Linked DNA regions of Homo sapiens. The protein of the gene in region 1 interacts with the protein of each later gene in a pairwise test. Each region holds a gene or a part of one and is shown in the gene's direction. Other genes may lie near its edges.

Region 1 (3,500 bases):
AGAGTCTCACTCTTGCCCACGCTGGAGTGCAGTGGGGTGATCTCAGCTCACTGCAACCTCCACCTTCCAGGTTCAAGTAATTTTCCCTGCCCCACCCTCCGGAGTAGCTGGGATTATAGGCACCCGCCATCACGCTAGACTAAGTTTTTGTATTTTTAGTAGAGACAGGGTTTCACCATGTTGGCCAGGCTGGTCTCAAACTCTGGACCTTAGGTGATCCGCCTGCCTTGGCCTCCCAAAATGCTGGGATTATAGGTGCGAGCCACTGTGCCTGGCCCTCAGAAGATCATTGTTAACTGTAAATTTGTTATCGTCTCCTCCTCTCAATATAACAGGTATTTGATGCTGTATTTTGATAAGCCTTTTCTATATTCATCCAAACTTCGAGAAGTAGAATTGAGGGAAGGAAGTATCAAACAAAACAAGCTGGGTGAGGTGGCTCATGCCTGTAATCCCAGGACTTTGGGAGACTAAGGCTGGAGGATTGCTTGAAGTCAGGAGTTGGACAAGCCTGGGAAACAAAGGAGACCCTGTCTCTACAAAAAAAAATAAAAATAAAGGCTGGGCGTGGTGGCTCACACCTGTAATCCCAGCACTTTGGCAGGCCGAGGCAGGAGAATTGCTTGAGCTCAGGAGTTTGAGACCAGCCTGGGCAACATGGCGAAACCCTATCTCTGCAAAAAAAGTAGAGTAGTCCCAGTTGCTTGGGAGACTGGGGTGGGAGGATCACTTGAGCCCTGGTGGTTGAGGCTGCATGAGCCGTGATTGCACCACTGCACTTAAGCCTGGGTGACAGAGTGAAACCTTGTCTCAAAAATAAATACATAAATAAAAAAAGTTAGCTAGGTGTGGTGGCACATGCCTGTAGTCCCAGCTGCTCAGGAGGCAGGAGGCTGTGGCAGGAGTGTTGCTTGAGCCCAGGAGTTTGAGGTGCAGTGCCTGTGATTGTGCCATGCACTCCAGCCTGGTAGACCTGGTCTCAAAAAAAAAAAAAAAAAAAAAAAAAAAACAACTCCCACAGGGAGAGCCTTCAGAATGGGGACTAGTGGTCACAAAAATGCATTGCCTTGGACTGTAGGTAGCAGGTAATCAGTCTATTGTAAATTAGTTAGCTCCACAAATGGTGTTACTAGATTGACTGCTCTTAAGATCCTTTTTAGCTTAGAAACTTCTGGTTTTTAAATAATTTGTTCTCTGTTAGTTGCTACTGTATAGATTTTAAAACGTGTTTTTGAGTTAAAATTTATTATTTCAGGGCCATCATTATTTAATCGAACCATTTATATACAAGTCCACAATTCTTCACACTCAGGAAAATACAGACTATACCTAGCCTCAAGTCAGTTTAGTCATTTTGCCACCAAATAAGTACAGGGCAGGTCAAGTTTAGTTGCCAAATAAGGTACAAAAAGATCTCTAGGTAGGGCTGGTCTGTTTTGAAAAAAAAAAAAAATTAAAAATCAGAAAAATAAAATTAAAAAAATTAAAAATTAGAAACAAAAAGTTGAAAGCCCCTCCAGTATTCAGAGCATTTTGGATTTCAGGATTACTAATAGAGGGTTGTAGATCAGTGTGTATATGTGTATGTGTATCTGTGTGTGGGGGTATGGTGTATGTATAACGTATCACTTCCTTTGTGCACTAAGTATGGAAACAAATATCCAAGAATTAACTTGCATAAGGAAGCAAAATAGGTTCACATAGAATCTACTCGTAATGAATGGTAATTTTTCCGTGACCTCTCTGCTCCCTTTTGCTTTCCTGCTTTTCTGTTGCCATTTTGAATCAATGAGTTATTTTCTGTGAAAAGGAGAATTGAAAACTGGGTCTAGCTCAAGTTATGTTCAGCCTCAGTGGTGACCAGTGTCTTATACTGGCCTTATTTCAAGAAATTAGTTATCATTTTTGTATTTGATTAGTTCACTCATTAAACAGATATATTTGAGTGTGTTCTTGGCCAAAGGCAACAAACAGATGAGTTAGAAAGAGGCCTGGCCTGAGAGTGGGGACCGTCTGGCCTGCTCCTAGGTGCAGCACAAATTGTGATCCTCAGTGGTTCCCAAACTGAGTTACTCCCAGCTGCCTTGTGGGTTGGGAGTAGCCCCTCTTATCTATTTCGTGTGGACTTGTTTTCTGGGAAAGGTTTCATTGTTTAAAAAATGTTTACAAACTATGAGACTATATTTCTAAGAGCCTCATTTTAGCTTTAATGTTTTGTGAATATACATTTATTGGATACTTCACATGAGAAGCATGACTTGTAATGGATTTTATACTAGAGATGCCAATGGCCACACAGAGCCTTTTTAAAGGGTCTCTTTGTTTTGGGGGGTTTGTGAGAGGTACATAGTCCAGCTAACTATCAAAGTAGGGACCTTGTCTTATTCTCTGCTGTATTCTTAGCCACTAGAAAGTGATTGGTACCCAGTAGATGCTGAATAAATACTTGATGGATGCATGAATGAATGGATTGATTAATTGGGTTGATCTTAACTGACATCCTTTCAAATTTATTTCAAGTAAAGGTAAATTTTTTGCTCTGATGTAGCGTTTATAGTTCCCTTTTATTTCTCAAATGTGATTGATCTGATATAACTTGAACATTTTCATGCTCTGAGAGTCATTCCTGCTCTGGTAACTTTCTCTAAAAATCTGAGACCTGTTGTTAGACTGTACAGTGGAAGATGCTGTCGTCAGAATATACAGTGGAAAATGCTGTCAGAGATACAAATAATTATAGCTCATGCCTTTGGCTATTGTTTAGTTGAGATGAGGCCAAGATGTATGTATGAGGACTGAATAACAACACAGGGGAATAAGCAATTGAATGCCTGAGTTAGTACACAACAATTGCTTAGAAAGTCAGAAGACAGAAGAATGTTGTGGGTTGAAACATCCTCGAGGCAGTTCTGACACCTTTTCAAGGAGGCATGAGCTTTAGGGAGGCTTCATGGACAAGTAGGAGTTTAAACAGAAGAGAGACAAGGAAAGATTATTTTAGGAAGTGGTGGGAGTAATTTTAGCATAAAGTTGGTAATGTCAGAGAAGTTTGTGATCGCTTTTTCTTTTTGAATTACTAGTGGTTTAACATTGCAGCTAGAATTAGTTAACAGCACTAGGTTGCAAGTGACAGACTCCCAACTCAGACCTAGCTTATTAACTAGTTTATTATTAACCAGTTTGTTAACTGGGATAATTGAAAAATATAGGATGAGGCCAGGTGTGGTGGCTCATGTGTGTAATCCCAGCACTTTGGGAGGCCAAGGCGAGTTCGAAAGCAGCCTGGCCAACATGGTGAAACCCTGTCTCTACAAAAAATACAAAAATTAACTGGGCGTGGTGGTGCATGCCTGTAGTCCCAGCTACTTGGTAGGCTGAGGCAGGAGAATCGCTTGAACCCTGGAGGCAGATGTTGCAGTGAGCCAAGATTGTGCCACTGCACTCCAGCTTGGGCGACAGAGTGAGGCTCTGTCTCAAACAAAACAAAACAAAAAGGTTAA
Region 2 (3,500 bases), on another chromosome or scaffold:
CACTCATAACTGAGGGCTGTAAAATTAGACAGAGGCAGCCCATGAAAAGCATCAGCATTGCTCTCTAGGAGAGTGATTCTTTCTTTACTTTGTGCATTTGGGAGGCCGCTTTATTAAAGCTCCAGCAGGTAGCTCCTTGGAGCACAGTTTATGCCATCCTAAGAAGAGTGGCTGTGAACCTAAGGACCCACAGAAATGACCACCAGGAGCTAATGAGGTGACATTGCCTGGGATTTTCATCGGACCAATTTCTCCTATAATGTCCGGATGGCCCAGGGCTGGCTCTTCTTGCTTTGGCACACAGAGCAGACCTACCCCAAATCTCCTGTCCAAGGTCATTTTTCCACAACATCCTTCTCTGCCAGAGTCCAGGGTCTTCCTGGCACTTCTGGCCTGGGTCTCAGGGCTGTAGGAAGACCTTGAGCTTGTAGAAAGCTCTTCTAGTGTTGGTTACGCTAGCCGGGGTCCCTGGCCTCTGCACGGGCTCTGTCCTATGGCCCCAGAATAGCCTATGCCCTCCCAGACGACAACTTTTCTCTTCAAGGGCTGATGCTTTTCATGGGCTGCCTCTTTCTAATTTTATAGCCCTCACTCTTCAGTGACTTCATTCAAAGGTGTCCCCATCACAAAGCATCACCCAGAGGCAGAGGAGCACTTCCAAGCTGGCCTCTCCCTGTAATATGGTTGAATTATTTGATCTTACAAAATAAAGAACTTTGACACTTACCAGACACTTTACTTAGCATTTAAGGGTGCACCAAAATCCTCTGTTAACCAGCACACATTTGAGTAGTAAGTATCTTTTTTACTTTAGATCATTATCTTGCAATATTCACACTCTGGTTCCCAGCTTCTCTATAATATGTGCAGATGCCTGGGCACCCAGCTTAAATGTGCACACTGATGATATGCTCACAGCTAATGATTTAATTAGAAACTACTCATGTGTAGAATTTGAAACTGTGATTCTAATTCACAAAGTGTTCTGCGGATTTTAAATGTTTGTCTTCTAAGAAAAGATATAATTTTCTCACTTTATCCAAGATCCCAAATTTTGAAAAATGCTGCAAGCTACCTTTACGTTTTGGAAATATGAAATCACTTTATTACACTAAGAAATATGGCTGCATATTTATATTTTCCTTGAGAGAGATTACAGATTTCTTTGGACCAGTCTCATGAATGGATAGCCTCTATTGTCACATCTGCCTGAAGAACTTTGTTATCTTGAGAAAGCCAAGATTGGCAGCCTACATTCATACCACTCAGGTTTCAGAGTCCTCCATTTAATGATCTCACTCTTTCTTCTGCCATTTCCTTAGCCGAATGTTTCTGCTTGACCTAGTGTTGTCTTGGTTTTGCAGACCCCTCTTCATGGGCATCCTGTAAGTGCCTCTTTCCTGAATTTCTAAGCATTTGGAGACTTGGGCTTCCACAAAAACACTTTAAAGTTGGGAGAACACTCTTCTCAGCTTTAGCAGAGATCACAGAGGAACGAGGATTCCATTATCCCTGCTCTGCTTACTAAATGCAGGATAAAGACCGTTTTGCTGAGGGAGAAATTATATTATTTTTGCATTCTCTTTTCCTGAAGTGCTGACTTTCTGGCCCTTGTTGTACATGGAAAGTGCAGTGGCGTGGAGCATCTTATATAATGGAGGGTAGCAAAATATATACCTCATAAAAAGTGGATGCCTGTGTTTAGATCTCTGCACCCACGGTACTGAGCATCTGGATAGAAGGCAGCTTAAGATAGCTCAGAGTTCATCTTCCTTCAGTGTTTCCTTATTACTCGAAATAATCTAGATTTTGTAGCACTATTTAACCATGCCTGATCAAAAGTAGGCTCCTTTAGAAACCTAGTTGGGTCCCCTTTGAAAAGCTGTCTGTAGCTCTTGTACCCTCAAACCACAGCTGTTGAAGTAGATTTGGTCTTACACCTGCGATAAAAGCCAGCAAATTACCTAATCACAAGGGATTTGAGTTTCTTTATGCCAGTGTATCTAGGACCCTCTCCCTGCACACGCGCTTCTGTCCATTTGCCCAACCTTTTGTTCATTCTTTGATGTGCAATTTTTTCGAATAGTCTCTATCAATTGTACTGTGGGTGACAGTCAAGGGAACACTTAATTCTGGGTAGATGCATGTGGCTTTTGTCAGCACCAAGCCTGGGCCTCATGCTTTCAAGTGCCTGCACACTGTAGTGCATTGCAAAATGAAGTCCTTTTCAAACGTGCACTATAGAATAAGTTGGAAGTTCAGGCAGAGGGAGGGAAATAAATAAGAAAAAAAGTTAGCCAGGGCCTAGAGACAGAGTTCTTTTCATTTCTCATCACCTCCAACACCCTTGGATCACACAGCGCGATTTTTATAACCTGTCATCCCTAAAAGCTCCGCCATGCCGTCTTCATTAATAGCCATCTAACACCGTGGCCCTGCTTTCAGGTACAATTCCTCCACTCATTAAGTCAGTTGTCCAAAACGAAGAAGGGCTGACGACCAACGAGGGGCTCAAGATGCTGGTGACCATCTCCTGTATCCTGGTGGGGGTCTTGCTGCTGTTTGTGCTCCTGCTGGTTGTGCGGAGGAGGCGGCGGGAGCAGAGGCTAAAGAGGCTGCGAGGTAGGTCCAGGCCCAGCTGTCCACCTACGCGTGTCCCCTGCTGCTCTGCAGCCAATGGGAGAGATGCCAGCTGGAGAACAAACCTCAAAAGGGAGTGACTCTTCCCTCTTTAACCCAGGTCCCTCCACTGCCTGGTTCTCTGACATTCCTTCAGCGAGACTGCAGAGCCTCAGGGAAGAGCAATAAGAATGTTCCTATCTCGGTCAGAAATCAGGTGAAAGCCAACCTGTCCCCTAAATCCTAGCTGTTGGTATGCAAGGAAAATTAATTTTTTAACTCTAGTCTCTTAAATTTTCAGTGGGTCCAGCAAAGCCACCAATTGTGGCTTTCTATGAAAAGATCTATCAGATTTGCTCTGGGAATGAGAATTACTTGACTGACTGGAAGTGGAAATTGAGGGCTTAGGATACTGGTGAAGCATTGTGAGGCAGAGGACACATGCCATCCCAAATTAGAAACGGGAGCTGAAGCCCAGTGTAAGAGTTTCACTCTAATGTAGCAAAAACATAATGAAGGCTGGAGAAGCCAGGCCAGATGAGCTCCATTGTGAACAGACACCATGATTATAATGTCCAGCCCCGTGTCGTTCTGTGATGAGGCTGTTCTCAGCTTCTGGCCAAGAGCCCTTACTTGCCCTTGCTCTGCAATGTGAGGACAGGGAGTTATTTCAAATATGAAACTGTGCAGACGTGTTCCCAGGTCCTTTGCCCTTTACCAGTGAGGGTGTTTAACTAAGCCACTTTTTCGGTAACGTGTATTACAAGGGATTTTCATTTTAATATCAGTGCAGTGTGGGATACTGCTATGCAGCATCCTATGTGTGTTTCAAAGTTATGTTCAAAGTACAAATCTGGAAGCACTCTCTCCTCAAAACATAT

Evidence for each region. The genes of interacting proteins can lie anywhere in the genome.
Region 2: the proteins of GNPTAB (region 1) and DSCAM interact in a two-hybrid assay, tested with the Homo sapiens proteins (one large-scale study listed by BioGRID and IntAct).

Annotation. Positions count from the first base shown.
Region 1 is NC_000012.12:101,824,460-101,827,959, reverse strand, and holds part of GNPTAB (N-acetylglucosamine-1-phosphotransferase subunits alpha/beta precursor), read left to right. Parts: intron 1-3,500. UniProt on the Homo sapiens protein: Catalyzes the formation of mannose 6-phosphate (M6P) markers on high mannose type oligosaccharides in the Golgi apparatus.
Region 2 is NC_000021.9:40,074,159-40,077,658, reverse strand, and holds part of DSCAM (cell adhesion molecule DSCAM isoform CHD2-42 precursor), read left to right. Parts: intron 1-2,445; coding exon 2,446-2,622; intron 2,623-3,500. UniProt on the Homo sapiens protein: Cell adhesion molecule that plays a role in neuronal self-avoidance. Promotes repulsion between specific neuronal processes of either the same cell or the same subtype of cells.